Regions from separate parts of the Homo sapiens genome. Here region 2 is linked to region 1. A link means that fine-mapping ties the variant in region 1 to the expression of a gene that starts in the linked region. Tissue or cell type: sun-exposed skin. Region 1 holds a variant in brackets; the other region holds the start of a gene. All regions are shown on one strand. Distances are from middle to middle.

The links. PIP is the estimated chance that this variant, and not a neighbour inherited with it, causes the effect.
Region 2: SERPINB9 starts here. The variant in region 1 is fine-mapped to the expression of SERPINB9 in sun-exposed skin (GTEx, PIP above 0.99).

What each region holds. Positions count from the first base shown.
Region 1 is chr6:2,766,711-2,774,815 of GRCh38, reverse strand. WRNIP1 (WRN helicase interacting protein 1) reads right to left here. Exons shown (of 7, transcript NM_020135.3): 2 at 5,934-6,125; 3 at 4,455-4,696. It also overlaps a transcript of MYLK4 not described here. Among named protein-coding and RNA genes, the nearest start is that of WRNIP1, 5.4 kb to the right of the region's middle. The variant T/A (reference allele first, on the strand shown) is at 3,746.
Region 2 is chr6:2,898,886-2,906,990 of GRCh38, reverse strand. SERPINB9 (serpin family B member 9) reads left to right here and starts at 3,682. Exons shown (of 7, transcript NM_004155.6): 1 at 3,682-3,790; 2 at 6,370-6,547. The coding sequence starts at 6,380. It overlaps SERPINB9-AS1 (SERPINB9 antisense RNA 1), which reads right to left. Exons shown (of 5, transcript NR_110841.1): 3 at 7,872-7,962; 4 at 6,935-7,075; 5 at 6,315-6,508. RefSeq lists silencers at 3,487-3,536, 3,637-3,716, 3,957-4,006 and an enhancer at 3,717-4,218.

The DNA.
Region 1 (8,105 bases):
TCAGAGTGAAAGCAAAGCAAAACAAAACTGACTTTCTCCACAAAGAGAGAAGGTACATTTCAGATGACGACGTCTTTCTGTTTAATCCCATGGAGGCACATGTCTTTCCAAATTACATTATACTTGGTAGGGGTCTGTAGTGGGTTGAATAGTGACCCCAAAAGATGTAAGTCCTAATCCCTGGAACCTGTGACTGTGACTTTATTTGGAAATAGGGTCTTTGTAGATGTAACTAAGGGTCTCAAGATGAAATCATCCTGGATTTAGAGTGTACCTTAAATCCAATGACAAATGTCCTTACAAAACACAGAAAAAGAGAAGACGTAAGGACACAGAGAAGAAGGCCACCATGTGAAGATGGATGTAGAGACTGGAGTGACATAGTCATAAGCCAAGGAATGCCAAGGGCCATCAGATGCTGGATGAGAGCATCGCCTTGTTGATACCTTGATTCTGGTCTTCTGGCTTTCAGAACTGTGAGGATAAAGCTCTGTGTTCTGAGCCACCCAGTTTGTGGCAATTGTTACAGCAGCCACAGGAAGTGCATCCAAGGACCATGAGATCTGTGGTTCTGGCTGCTGGTGCTTTTATGGCATTATTTTAATGCACCCTTGTATTAAAACAGCTATGTTAATGTACTGTATTAATGTACTTAAAAAATTTTTAAATAAAAAGATTGACATCTACTCTATACCAACCATTTATTCTGGCCAATCCCTTGTATTCTGGAGTTCCACTACCTTTCTTTCTATTCAATGGCACAAAAGGTTATTTAAGACACTTTAAACTTTTATAAAAAGAAGAATCCATAGCCACCTTGTTTGGGGGCCAGCTTGTCAGGGGCTCTCCTCTCCAGATGATTAGAGAAAAGCCCCACACCCAGTTACGCCACAGCCCTTACCCAGGGACAGACGCCACTTTCTGTCTTCCAACCACCTCTCGGAACTCAGCCTAGCTAGGCAGAGGGCAGTTATGGCTTCTCATTTCACTCTCTTGATCTCCAAAGACTTGTATACTCTATCTGGTTCACAAATAATTGATTCTTTAGGAGTGTTTTTGACTATGTATATATTCTATGACCTAGGAATCTATATTCCTTCAAAGCAGCAAGTAGTGCAGGATGACGAAATGCTAGCTTACTTTTTCATTTTCAGCAGCACAAGCTCATTCTTCGTATCATGAATCATGGACATTTTTTTCCTGGCCTCCAAAATTAACCCAGAGCAGACAGAATCTTCACTGTTTGTATCATGTGATCCAAATATTTTTGGGAGAGCAAAATACCTGAACACTACTGCTTAGCCATACAAACCAAAGCAACTATGGCGTAGACAATGAGCTTTCTATTTCACTCAGTTAAATTCTGCTTATCCTTCAAAACTCAACTCCGCATCCCCTCATCTAGGAGGTGAAATACTGGATTTCACATATTCTGAATGCTGCTTCTCTACGCCCACTGCACTTGGCGTATAAGCGTGGCACTGGAAGTGGACCTGCTCCCCTAGCCTTCATCATACTGCGCTCCCTCTGAAGGCACAGGAACAAGCTTTTCAACCCTCAGCCAATGCCTAGCATATGCAGGAGCTTCAATTTTGACTGAATAATAACTACAGGAGGGAATTTTTTTTTAAAAAAAGAACACTTATTTCACTTTAATGGGAATTTATCACTTACATGAGTATACTGTGTGACAACTCACAATTCCTCAAGTGCAATCAAGAACGGCTAAGCGGCAGCTTGATTAGTTTCCAAATCCAGTGCCCTGCTCACCTCCTCTCACGTGCAGTTCAACAGCCTGGGACTTCTCTGTAAATGTTCTAGTTGCTATCTAGGGCACCAAAACATGACACAAGAATACAAATGCACACCAATAGCTTCCTGGAGAGAGAAAGTAAGTATATGGGGTTGGAAGTCTTTTCTTTCAACTAGATTAGTGTCACCAAATCTGATTTATATGCACAAGGATGTATATAGAGCTGTCAACAGGGATTGGAAAGCAAAATTTTACCTAAAACAACTAAAAGACATCCCAATCCACTCTTAATTATCCCTGACAGTTGGGGTGGCAGGTACTTGTATTCGGAAATCACTTGTAAGAGTTCTTTCTGTGGCCTATGATATCTCCTAACTTAACTTCTTGTTAGAATTGCTAACAAGTTGACCAATTAATGGTTTTAAGCTTAACATTCTTTCATTTTACTCTGCTTGCTGCTGATGAAAAGGGCAATAGTATTAAAGAAAAAGGCTCTTGATACCTGGGTAATTATCCCTTATGCTGGATAATGCAAAACATATTAAACTACTTTTCTCATATCGAAAGCTAGGATTTATTCATTTCCAAACCATTCACAAAGCACATAATGTGTGCCAGGCACTGTGCTGGGGATATGAACAGGGACAAGCTCCTGTCCTCACAGTCTTCCCAGGAAAGCGGGGGACACAAGATAGCAAATATAATTGGGATCAAGTCTAAGCAAGCGGTAGTGGAAATAGTAAATCATTTACTGGATATGGGAAGTTTTCTCTGAAAAGCAATTTTAGCAGATAAACAATCTCTAGCTCATTGTTATATCAGTTTCAATAACTAAATCTTAATTATTTCACTTGATCTTCTCAAACTTTAATGTGCCTGCAAATCACCTGAGGATTTTTAATAATAAAATATAGAAATTCTTCTCACAAGGATGAGCTCCTTGGCTGCCGCCTTTCTCATTTCCTTTAAATTCCTGCACGGCAGTGACTGGGGAGAGGTGAAAAAACCTGAGGGTATCTGAGTAACAACTGATTATTATTGACTTCATGTCATCAATATTAATTATTGATTTCATGTTCTATTTCATGAACTGATGACATGAAATCAATAAAAATCACCCCAGACAAGTACACATGCAGAATATTAAGTTGCAGATACATTACGATAACCAGTACACAGAGCAAAGAACACACAGAAACATGAAACATGTTAGGATTTCCCCCCTTTTCTTTCAATTTGTCTTTACCATGTGGTTCTATGCGTCTGTAATGAGAATTCTGTTACGGGAAACCTACACATGAGTATCCCACATCTGAAGTGCCTGGGACCAGAAGTGGTCTGAATTTCCTATTTTTTTGATTTTAGAATATTTGCATTATATACTTACCAGATGAGCACCCAAAATCCAGAAATCTGAAGTGCTCCAATAAGCATTTCCTTTCACAGCATCATGAAGGTGCTCAAAAAGCTTTAGATTTGGGAGCATTTTGGATTTCAGATTTGGGATACTCAACCTGTACTACATATGAGGAGCTGGCAGCCCCCTTAGGCTCTGACAAATGCCCACCACATAAAGCACTTCTGAGTATGAGTCCATGTGGCTGATACCACAGGTTCCACACACTGCTTGTGGCCACAGATGTAATGGCTATCCCCATCACAACGGTATTCCAAAACAAGGCCACTCTGTCCTACCCAGTGGTCCACGGGCCAAATGTTTCAATGCTTTCATTAGACACAGCAGAATTCTCCCTCCATCTCAGACAGGAGCAAATGGGGCCAGACACATAGGGAGAGCCTGGTGAAACCTAAACCCTGAGCCTAAACTATGCCTTGTACTTTAATCCTCACAGAAAAGTGGCTCCAGAACTTGGCCTCAGGGCAGGCACGAGCAGCTGCAGAGTCCACAGCAGGAGGAGGTGGGCAATAGCCTCTCATCACACCAGATTATGTTCCATGGCAGTATTTCAGCCAACGTATGAACAAATACCA[T/A]CTGAAGAATATGTTCTAATATTAAAAAAAAGGAAAACCCCTGACCCAAGAAATCAAATTATCTATGATATACACTTGGTGCATTAACGAGCTCATGTGGTACTCATGATGCAGAAATAGGTCACTAAAAGGATAGGGACAGCCTATAATGTCATATTCAGTTAACATTCCTTTACTTTCATGAAACTGAGTTTCAACTACACAAAAAGGATTACATAATTTTAAGGTTACAAGTTAATTTTTACTTGATTTTTTTTTTTTAACAAAATGCTAAACTGCAGGTTAAAAAGAAATTGAAACATGAGTACAATGCTCAAAAGAGTTGTATGGTAAGTCTAGAAAGTATTTATCTATCTATTTGTTCTATTCAATGAGGGACATAAAGCCTTTCAAATCATCAATAAGGCTTCCCATAGAAGCCTAAGCACAAAAGCAAACACCCAAGAACCAAAACAACAAAGCAAAGTTAAAGCTTGAAGAATTATAGAAACACATATTAGAGGCTGGAAAATGCATCTTCAAGTGTGCAGGGATAACTTTGTTAGGTATAATCGAACATTTCCCTCCTCTTTTATTTTCATTACGGGCGGATCAACATTTCTTCTCTGTCCCCACCCTCTCCTCACTGACGCCCGGCCCTTTCTGGCCCCCTGCCAGGAGACTCTCTGGGAGGTGTGTGCCCCCAGGACGCTGCACACTGTCAACTTACTCTGAGCTGCTGTTGCTGCTGTGGCTCAGAGGGTCAGTGGGACGGCTAGAGTCTAGGACGTGGATTCCCAGGGAGTTGATCGCTCGCATTAAAATAGTCACCATTGCCTCTACTGGAAGCTTCTCAAGAACAATCACTCGACAGCGGCTCAGAAGAGCAGCGTTGACCTGGAAGGAAGGGTTTTCAGTGGTTGCCCCAATCAGAGTGATCGTCCCACATTCCACGTGAGGAAGGAAAGTGTCCTAATCATGGGAGGAAAACAGAAAAAAGTGATTCCAGTCAACAGCCACCTGCAGAATCCTATGTAAGTTGGCTATCCCTTCCTTCCTTTTCCTCATTTTTATCTTTCGAGTTCAGGAATAGCAGCAGCCTTATATTCACTGAATATAGATGCAATATTTGGGGGAGTACAACTCTTGCTTTTAAGTCTGAAACACATCTTCTGGAATGCCCGTCCAAGCCTGATCTCTTGCTGGTAGACTAATAGCTTTAAGTAGAATTCTAGCTTAGTTTCAACATAAATGATTTCTTTACTCAGAAAACCATCTTCTACCAAAGGCTGAACTGGCACATAGCTTATATGTAACAGCTATTTATTTATAGACAAGAACACACAAAAACATTAACACTTCCAGAATCTTCTTCCACAGCAAGCACTCAATCATATTATTATTATTCCTATTATGCTGTTTTATGGGGAAAAAATACTAAGATGAGTCAGTGGTCCAATATGAAACCTAGAATGCTAACGCCTCGTCAGAACTTTAAAAGGGTCTTTTTATTCAAAAAGGTTCAAAAAAGGCTCAGTAGAGTTTTGTGAAATATTCTATGTATGATTAAAAAGTTACAAAAAAAAATTTTTTAAAGTTATGCCTAAAAATTTAATTTTTTTTTATTTAGAGTATAGCTCTCAGATCTCAGCCCAATAAAATTTTAATGTTTATTTTTTTTTAAATCCCTAAGTGGCTTTGTTTATAAAAATAGCTTGTGTCCTTTTATTTCAGAAACCCATTTAAATAAACAGTAATCATTAGCTCTTCCAACATTCACCTTGAAGACAGAGCCTGGAGTTACAGAAAATACCGATTGTTTAATTTTCAAAATAAAAATACTGTTAAAGTAATTTTTAAAAACCCATTAAAATAATGACCTTAAAATCATTATTTTACTGTTCACAATGACTCCTAGTATTTAGATTAAAAATTCCTAAAACTGGAAATTTGATTCAAAGGTGCTTTTCTGATACGTATAGCTCAGGGATATGCCAACCATTTCATTTATCAGATAGAGAAAGCATTTTCTTGTTATCAAAAAACACTAAGAAATGTATGGAGAAATAGGCTTGAAGGAGATGGGTTCACAAGCCTACGCTTCTTTGTAAACAAAGCTCGTAAGTCTCTAGCGTTTGTATAGTGATCTCACACACTTTATATTGTTTGATGTTCACAACGACCAAAAGGTAGAAGGAAGTTAATATACCTGCTGAGATTTATTGAACCGATGAATCTCATCAATAAAAAGGATGGTTTTCCTTTTGAAAAAGCTCTTTTCATTTTGAGCTTGTTTTATGACATCTCGCACATCATTTGTCTTGGCATTTGTTGCAGATAATGTCACAAACCTTATGCTATGTTTCTTGCTGTTGCTGGCTATGATGTGAGCCAGAGTGGTCTAGAAAAGATGACATACATGGAGTTTGAAAAGCTGGTAAGACACAGAGAGACCAGCACCCATGGGAACCACCACACGCAGCATCACTATTTACCAAAAGCAACTTGACCTCGGAAGAATGCTGAGCAGCACAGAAACAATCAAAAATACCACAGGACATTTAAAAACAACAACAACAAAAATATTATAAATAAAACAGGAAAGTAGCTAAACCTTAGGCTAATCCTGACCTTTTCTCCTCTGTCCCTAACCACCTTTGATTCCTTTTTGGGTGACTCTTTAAGATCTTTGGAATCCCAGTAAAGAACGGCTGTCTTGATTTAGCAGAGTGACAGCTGTGACCTCTCACCAAAGAGAAAATTCTCCCTCCTCTAGCCGAGACAGCACGGAAGGATCTAGGTGCAGAACTCATCGCAGAACCACAGCCCGAACTGGAAGCTCAGGACAGCTGAGAAAAGGAGAGTGAGGGAGCATTTGCCTTGAGACCAATGACATCCACCTAGCATTTGAGATGACTGTAGGCCACTTCTGCATGTTCACTCTGGTAGGAGATGAAGGGCAGCACTGTGGTCACATTAGCAATTACTAGAAAACCAAGGAGACCCAGGTAAAGCACTTCTTGGGTCCTCAACAAATATGTATATGCTGTTATTAATATGAATGTTGTTATTAGTACTAAAGGATGAGAAGAAAAACTGAAGACTGTTTAATGACTGTGACAAATCTGCACCTAAATGGAAAGGTGGTACTTTCTTTTCTAAAAGTTGTAGAGCACCCATTCTGTGGCTGCTTCTTTCAGAAATCCCCGCCTGCCTGCCTTTTGGAATCAGGCTCGCAAGTCACAGATGCCTAGGCTTGCAAATGACCAACGCCCATCTCACTGAGCAGCCTGGACCACCCAAACCTCTTGCCTGGCATTTGGTAGGTGGGATGAGCTCACCCACTCGTCTCCCTAAGGACCTTCTTGCTGTCTGGGGCCACCAACAGCTGATTATCCATTCTCATGATCTTATGTAAAGACTTCACAATTACTAAGAATGATACTGCTCAATCCCTTAAATGGGGTTAACAACTAAATCCATGGGGACAGACGTCAACAACTCGACCACCATCATCATAAGATGTTATTTGGGATAGATGTGGTTTATTCCTGGCCAAAGGGAAGGCATGAGTGCAAACAAGAAGGCACAAAAAGGGCAATTCATTCCAGGAACTGGAGTTAAAGGGGGTGTGCTTAAGTTGTGGGAGATAAAGCTAGAAAGAAAAATAGGAGAAAAATCATAAAAGCCTTGTGTGCAAACGAGTCTGAATCTCAAAGCTACAAGAACTCTTTACAGTTTGATCCCTGAATTCTCCCTTTCCCTTCCTGATGCTGGTTCTTCTCCCTTATTATGGATAAAAGCATCCTGTATTTAAGCACTTCTTAGCTTTCTCTGTTTTCTGGCTCACCTCCTCCATTTTTTTCTCAAGTGTTTTTCCAATGACATGCTTTCTAGACTCACAATATCCTAACTGCCCTCATCTGGAACGCTAACGCCTCACGAAGGGACACAGAACTGGACACCAAAATGCACGGATGTTTCTTCTCTAGAGTACAAGGCATTATGAGAAAAGTTACGGAAATACCGGATGAAAATGACTTGCAGATGAAAAAGTTTTTATGTTAGTTTTGTAAATACATGAGTATATTTAGTAAAATCAATATATTCTCAAGAATATAAGAATGTTAAATAAACTTATTCTTAAGAATAAATACCAGTCTGTTAAACCAACAACTAGTGGAAAAGGAAGGAAGCACAACAGAATTAATTTGATTTTTTTCAAAGCTGAATCCGTTATTATGTACAAACGGAATATACAAATGTTTCTTTACAATTTAAACATGCTGATTCCTTGCGAATTCGGTTACTAAATCAAAGTCTGGGGAGGGGGCGGGGAGACCGATGGAAGATAAAGGCAGATCAAATCTAAGAGTCCACA
Region 2 (8,105 bases), 130 kb before region 1:
TCAACAAATACGCTTCAGCAAATACAGTTGTCTCTTGGTATCTGATTGATTCCAGGATCCTAGCGAACATTGAGCTCTGCGGATCCTCAAGTCCCTAATATAACATGGCGTAGTGTTTGCATATAACCTATGCAAATGTAACCTGTGTAACATCCTCCCATACGCTTGAAATCATCTCTAGATTATGTATAATACCTAATACAATGTAAATGCTGTACAAATAGCCGTTATACTGTATTGTTTTAAATTTTGTATTATTTTTTGATTTTTTAAAAAATTTTTCCATCTGCAGTTGGTTGAATCTGTGGATGTGGAACCTGAGGTACCGGTGGCCAAATGTACAGTGTGCTAATATAAAAATTAGTAAAGGAGGGTTAGGCTGTCCTGAGGCTCGCAGTCCGGTGTGGGAGACAGAAGATTTAGTGGAAAGTCCCTGTGGAGCTTAAGTGTTGGGCTGGGCCATTCTAGGGGTGTTCAGGGCACCTTGGAAGTACCTCAGTGTGCTCGCCGTCTCTCCCTCAGACTGCTGCCCTCTTGGGCCAGATATTGTGTCTTCAACTTGGTACCAAGTTCCCAGCAAGTGCCAAGCCAAGCCCATGGCAGGAAGCGAATTATTTTTTGTTAACTGAATGCATGAGTCTTAGAATGGAACCTGACTGTGTCACAAGCATGATAGGAACATGTTGGGGGCAGGGAAATGTTTTCAAAGTTGTGGAAACCTTTGCAGAATGAATAGGGCCACGCTCCATATTTTGCTCTTTGCAGGACTTTAAGGAAGTGTGTCAAATGCCCACAGGTAGAGCTGGAAAATGTGGCCTTTGCTAAAGATGCAGAAGAGTCTAGAGACGCACAACGGCTGGGTCATTGGTGGTGAGGGACTTTATTTGCAGTGAACTTGGAGCTAGGAAGGAAGTTACTGCTGGGTGGGTCCTCAGTGACGGAGGTCTGCTTACACGTTTGCCAGGTTTTCAGGCCAGCAACATGATTCTGTCATTTCTCTTGGGCTTGTCTGATCATGAAGTAGTGATTTTTGAAAAATCCTTGGACCTGGTGTGAGGATCAAAGACTCCCTTCCTCCGGACAGTGTTGGAAAATCCTGGAAAAATGCTTCCTCTGGGGCCCTGTGTATTTTCTATCTGGGAAAACCATGATGAGCAATCAGATAAAGAAATATTTTTGTGATATGTTGTGACTTTCTTAAAGTAATAAAGTAGAAGAGATTTTAAATGAAAAATATAGGTAATTGCAAAATCTCTTGATTCTTAGCTATTTCTGAACAGATTTCATGCCCCACCCCCCCATACAATTTTTAGTGGGGGAAAGAGGAGAAAGGAAAGGAAAAGCTAAAATAACCTTGTTTTCATAGTTCTGTGTTTTTATCCTTTCCTAAACCCATTTTCCATCGCTGGTCACATGATTTGGATTGAAAGGACGTTTCCTCTAGGCCTCGGAGCACAGAGGCAGCTAACATGTTTGCACTATGCCATCATGGTCCACGTTTACTCAGACACTTTCTTGCAATGGCACTGACAACGATGCCCCCATTTGTTGCCTTAAAATTCATGGGTATGGCCAGGCACAGTGGTTCACGCCTGTAATCCCAGCACTTTGGGAGGCTGAGGCGGGAGGATCACCTGATGTCAGGAGTTCGTGACCAGCCTGGCCAACATGGTGAAACCCCATCTCTACTAAAAATACAAAAATTAGCTGGGTATGGTGATGCATGCCTATAGTCCCAGCTACTTGGGAGGCTGAGGCAGGAGAATCGCTGGAATTGGGAGGTGGAGGTTGCAGTGAGCCAAGATCACGCCATTGTTCTCCAGCCTAGGCGATAGAGCAAGACTCCACCTCAAAAAAATAAATAAGTGGATAAATAAATAACAGCTTTTTGTTTAATCAATTGTCTCTATCATTATAAAGTTTTCTATATCATTGATTTATTCTCTAATCTTTATTATTTCTTCTTTTCTACTGATTATGTGTTCAATGTATTTATACTTTTTCTAGTTTTTGAAGGTAGAAACTGAGGTCATTGATTTGAAGCCTTTCTCCTCTCCTAATATAGGCATTTCATGCTGCAAAATTTCCCCAAAGCTGACTTAATAACATCCTACAAATTTTGATGTTTTTATTTTCATTTTTTATTAATTTCAAAATACATTCTAATTTCCCTTTTGATTTTATAATATTTTTATAAGTATTATTCAGTTATAAAAAGAAATAAAGTACTAACAAATGCTACCTGGAACCATCAAGAATGACCCTTGAAAACATTATGCTAAGTGAAAGAAGGCAGTCAGGAAAGACCACATATTGTATGATTCAATTTGCATGAAATCTTCACAGTCGGTCAATCCGCAGGGCCAGAAAAGAAATCTGGAGGTCGGAGCCTCTCCCAGAAGCCAGGGGTTGTGGGAAGGAGGAAATGGAGAATAATTGCTAATGGGTATCACAGTTCCTTTTAGGGTGATGAAAACCTTCTGGAGTTAGATAGTGGTGAGAGTTGGACAGCTTTGTCAATATACCAAGAACTATTGAATTGTATGCTTTAAAAGGATGCATATTATGGTCCGTGAATTGTCTTTTAATAAAGGTTTTATTTTTAAAAACAAGCTAGGCACCTAGGGTGTCAAATTGAAGGAGGCTCTGATTCTCAGGGCCGCGCAAATGCAGGGTTGGCACCTATGCGTGTGGCCCTCCTGAAATTTTGTGCCTTAGGCACCTGCCTTGCTTCTCCCTAATTCAGGCCCTCAGGAGAAAGCTCTAATTCTGGTCAATTTGAAACAGGAGGGCACGGCTTCTGGGCGACGCTCCGTGCTCCAGAGAGAGCCATTTGTCTGTTCCCTTCCTCTGGACGTCACCGTGCCAACATGAAATGCTTCCAATTGAGTCCAGCCTGAGATGGAAGGGGGTGGGGGGATATCTGATGACATCACGAACTGCTGCATCAACTCCCCCGAGTCCCTGCCTCTGGACCCCCTGATAGAGGACACAAGGAGTGTCCTGAGCCCGTGTGACTCAGTGTCTCTTCCCATCACTTTGCGGGAAAATGGGGCTGCTTACACCACACCGCAGCCCAAACACCTGTGGCTAGAGAAGGGCTTGGGTACTAGGAGTGAGGACGCCTGGTTCTGGGCCCAGGACTAGTACTAGTTAGTGGTGGGACCTGGAACAAATGCTTTGGTTCTAAGTGAATCCCCCATATTCATGACAAGAGGCGTGGAACACAGACCCATGGGACCTTCCCACTGGAACACGGAGCTTGGCTGTCACCCGACCTTCGCTTCCTTAAGTACAAAAGCCCAGGGTTCCAGGCTCCGTCTCCTTTCCCGCAGACGCCTTGTTTCTTCGCGCGGAGGCCCTGGACGCCGCAGGCTCCCAACCTACTTCTCTGGGCTGTCAGGTTCTGAACCCGGTCCTGAAGAGGCCCTGGCGCCGGGGGTGGGTGAGGCCGAGCGCGCGCCTTGGGAACCTGGCCGGCCTCAGGCTGGCGGGAGCATTGGCGGACATCGCCCCGGGCGGGGCGGACTGGGGGGACCCTGACCTGACCCTGCTCCCAGCTCTGACCTCGGCCACCACGCGCGGCGCCCCCGCTGGTCCCGCCAGGCTCCGCCTAAACGCAGAAAGCGTGGGAGGCGCCCGACCCTGCGGTATAAAAGCGGTGCCTGCAGAGGCCCTAGCGGGAGTCCGCGGCGAGCGCAGCAGCAGGGCCGGGTCCTGCGCCTCGGGGGTCGGCGTCCAGGCTCGGAGCGCGGCACGGAGACGGCGGCAGCGCTGGACTAGGTGGCAGGTGAGGGCGTCCCCGCGCACGGCTGGGGTAGGGGACGGGAGTGGCGAGCTTCAGGTCCACCGGCTGCCACCGAGTGATGGGACCGGAGGACAGGAGAGGTCGCTCAGCCAAGAGCCCCGGGGAGGCGGTGCCTTCTCGGTGGGGTCAGCAACGGTCTCTGGGGGGTGCCTGGGAGCGGCAGCCGGTCTCCGCCTTGGCGGCCCACAGCCACCGCGGACGCCTCCCTCCCGGATGTCTCCTCGCTGCCCTTCCCTGGCCGAAGCCCTCCCCTGCAGCCTCCTCCCCACCTGCCGGCCCTGTGTTCTCACTGCTCTTCTCTGCTCTGGGATCCGCAGGATGACGTCTGTCCTGCTTCTTCACTGTCCTTTACAGTCACCAGTCTCGGCCGGGCGCAGTGGCTCACGCCTGTAATCCCAGCACTTTGGGAGGCCAAGGCGGTCGGATCCTTGGAGATCAGGAGTTCGAGACCAGTCTGGCAAACGTGGTGAAAACCGGTCTCTACTAAAAATACAGAAATTAGCCGGGCATGGTGGCCCACGCCTGTAATAATGTCAGCTATGTGCTGAGGCAGGAAAATCACTTCAACTCGGGAGGCAGAGGTTGCAGTGAGCTGGGATTGCGCCACTGCACTCCAGCCTGGCAGACAGAGTGAGACTTCGTCTCAAAACAAAAAAAAGAAAAACACAAAAAAACCACCACCAACAACAACAAAAAAATAAAGCCACCAGTCTCGGAGTTTCAAATCTGAGCACTCTTATCCATCTTAATTCTTTCAATAATTCAGCTAAACGAATGGGGTCCTGAGAATCTGCAGAGCCAGGCTCAGCGCTCGCCTGCAGAGCCTGCGGTCTGTGGGGACCACCAGCAAGATGAGGAATCACCTTCGGGAGGAAGGGTCGTGCTGGGGAGGGTCGCGCCGGCGGGGTCAAGAGAACCTCCTCCAGGGTGGGAATCAGAGCCTCCGGGCCGCGGTGTTTGAGGGTGAGTGGAATTAATGCCGTGATGGACATGGGGCCTTCTAAGGGGGACCAACAGTGTTTGTGAAGAGTTGACTTTGGGAGGGGTTCAGGATGGCCAGAGGTGGAGGCTGTGACCTCAGTGAGTCTGGATCAAGGGAGGGGGCAGGTGGGTAAGACACCGTTTTAACAAGGTGGCTTTGAGCGGCCACCTTTGAGGGGCCTAAGGGCCCCTGGGAGATTTAGGAGGAAGGACAAGAGGATTAAGACACCGCTTTCTGAGGTGCCGTGTGGCTGTGGCGTGGGGGTGGCTGGGGGAGTGGGTTGTGTTCATTGTCCAAGGCTCTCCAGCGCTTTGCGTGGCGTTTTGGGGAGCACAGATGAGGTGTCCCGACAGTGGGGAGTGGCTCTAGGGAGACCAGAGGCTCGGGAGGGGGCCTGGGCATTAGACCAGGCACAGAATCCGAAGTGGGAAGAAATGTGGGCGTAGAGGGCAGGCCTTGGGGATGGGTGTGGGGGAGGAGGGGGAGATGGAAAGGAGTCAGGGAGGTCTCCCAGGCTCACCTGGAGGAGTCAGGGTCTCATTTCCAAGTGCACTGGGAACTGCAGCCTGGGGGTGGGGGTTCATTTGGTTTCAGGCCTGTGGCCAAGAGACCCACCCCCTCACATTCACACTTTGGTCTCCAGTGGCTTCACAGGCACCACCTCCTTGTTCTCGCCTGTTTTACTCCTCACCTTGGGCTGTTTCTTGCCTTTCCATTCTGGCGTTCTGCAGGGATCAGATCCTTCCTCTCACGCACAATCTACACTCATGGCTTTTGCTGGGAGTAATGAGTAAAGCTCCCAAATAGATGTTTCTGAGTTAGGAAGCACATTAAAAACAAAACAAAACGAAGCAAAACCACACAATTGTCCAAGTCCCACTCTGTGTTCAAGGGTCACATGATGTGCAGAAGCTGGTGATGGGCAGGAGCTCTGAATGGAGTTACTGGGATGTCAGGCCGCGTGGGCCTGGGGCAGGCTGGCTGACTGGGAGCAGCCTGGCTCCACCCCGGCTGTCCAGGACGCACTCACTTGCCTCTATGGATGACAGCTCCTTGCCTCACAGCTGTCTGTCTCTGGGTCAGATTCAGCATCTCAGTGTCTTTTGTGTATCAGCTGAATGTCAGGGAGGCCACAGGCTGGTGCCCAGTTGAAAATCTCACAAGGACTCTTTGTAAATGCATGCAAGAATAAGAACAGCATTTTCCTCCTCCTCCCTGACCCCATTCTCCTCCTCAGATGGGACGATCTGGTCCTTACGGAAAGAATTGGAGTTCACTGCTTCCAGCTCTGTGTGTGTGTGTGTGTGTGTGTGTGAGAGAGCGAGCTCTGCAGGCGAGCCAGTTCTGTTGCTATTGCTGGTTTGAGCTGCTGCCATCACCACACTTAGCTAATTACCTTAACATTTGCACTTAATTTTTGGCCGGAGACTAACAGAAAATAAATTTTTCTCCAATTTAAAATACTTACGAACTTTAAGAAGAAAACAAAAAGTACGATTCCAAAATTGCCCTGTAGTAAGTAGGTCAGTAACATTCAGGGAGTGTGGAAACTGCATTTCTCTTTATTCTTCCCTTCCAGGCCCTGCATCATGGAAACTCTTTCTAATGCAAGTGGTACTTTTGCCATACGCCTTTTAAAGATACTGTGTCAAGATAACCCTTCGCACAACGTGTTCTGTTCTCCTGTGAGCATCTCCTCTGCCCTGGCCATGGTTCTCCTAGGGGCAAAGGGAAACACCGCAACCCAGATGGCCCAGGTAAGCTTGCCCGTCCGCCAGGAGCAGGGACTGGCCTGGGCTGCGTGTTCTGTCACCAGCTTCACACTCACACTCCAGAGCCACTGAGAAAGGAGGGCAGGACTGGGGCCCGAGTGTGCACTGGCCGTTTCAGGGAGGCGGGGTCCACTGGGGAAGAAGTGGGGCAGGGCAGGGAGGCAGGAACTCTGCTCCACCGAGATTTATTTGGGGGAAACTTTCCTCGGTTAATCCCTTGGAAAAGACCATCCAAGCTGTCTTGTCCTAGCGCAGAATCTTTCTTTAGAAAATGACACTGAAATTATTTGAAACATAAGTTGCAAAGAACTACCTCTTTTTTGGAGCAAGAGACTTTGTAACTAAACTTTCATTGGTAAGGAAGGTTAATACCTGTTTCAAGTTGTTTCTGTACCAACAGCTCAGGGAGGGCATCAACAGAAATTTGCAAGAAGGATTCCAGGGCAAGTGCTTCATTACAGCTGCACACTGTGCAGGTACTGCTCAGCTCAGTCTCACCAACATTCAGAGAACCTGTGGAAATGATTCAAGATCAGTGCTTGTCCCCAGACCTTTGTGGAAAGGAGAGGAGACATACACGTGAGATGAAACCGAAAAGCGCCATCCCTGAGTGCAGGCCGCTGGACACGCCTTCATCATGGGAGTTGTCCTTTGTTCAATATGACTGTCTTTTTCTTTGATGACGCTTTTCAATAGTGAATTACTCATTTTAATAATTTCCCAGCTCATTGTGTGAAGAAGGGAGGGTTTATGTGTAAAGGCTACCAGCCTTAATAATAAGCACAGAGAGGCTCTCTAAAAGATATATATATTTGGAAATAGGGCATTGCAATGAAAATACGCATGCCATGGCAAGCTATGTGCACATTCAGGGAGGTGAAATAACACTAAGATTTTTAAAGGAAAAAGTAAAGAGGATTACATAATTCCTTTGAAATAATTATTTTTGGCAAAAAGATCAATAACGAAGGTGATGTCAGTGTGAGGTTGGATGGGGAGTTCCTGGGTAGATGTCCTTGCACAAGTATTTTGTTGTGTAAGGCTGTGATGGCCTTTGTGCAAGAGCGTAGGTTTTTAGAGTCCTTTGTGATAGTTGTGTTATCAGGCATTCAAGCGTGAGAACCCTCTCTTCATGGCCTTCCCTGTCTGTTTGTCAAAGGTTTTTGGTTTTGTTTTTTTAATATTAGTGACTCCATTTTGATTCTGAAGTTCCTTATGCTGAAATCTGTATGATCTTTTTCTATGTTTTAGGCTCACTGATAAACCCTTATAGAAAGCTTTTTTGAGAGCACCAAAATTGTCTGGGTACCTTCTTAGGTGTGAGACTGAGCTCTCTCCATGGCTCCAGTGTTCAACTGGATGCTTGTGAGACACCAAACATACTGAGTACACGTTGCTACCTGTAACATGCAGGGAAGCGTTAATGGCAGCAGAAATATTTTAAAGAATTATTTATTTTTCCTTCATTATATAACTGGTAAAAGTCCACTATAAAAATTTTTAAAAAATAAAAGTAGAAGGGAGGAAAAAATCCCTATGAATC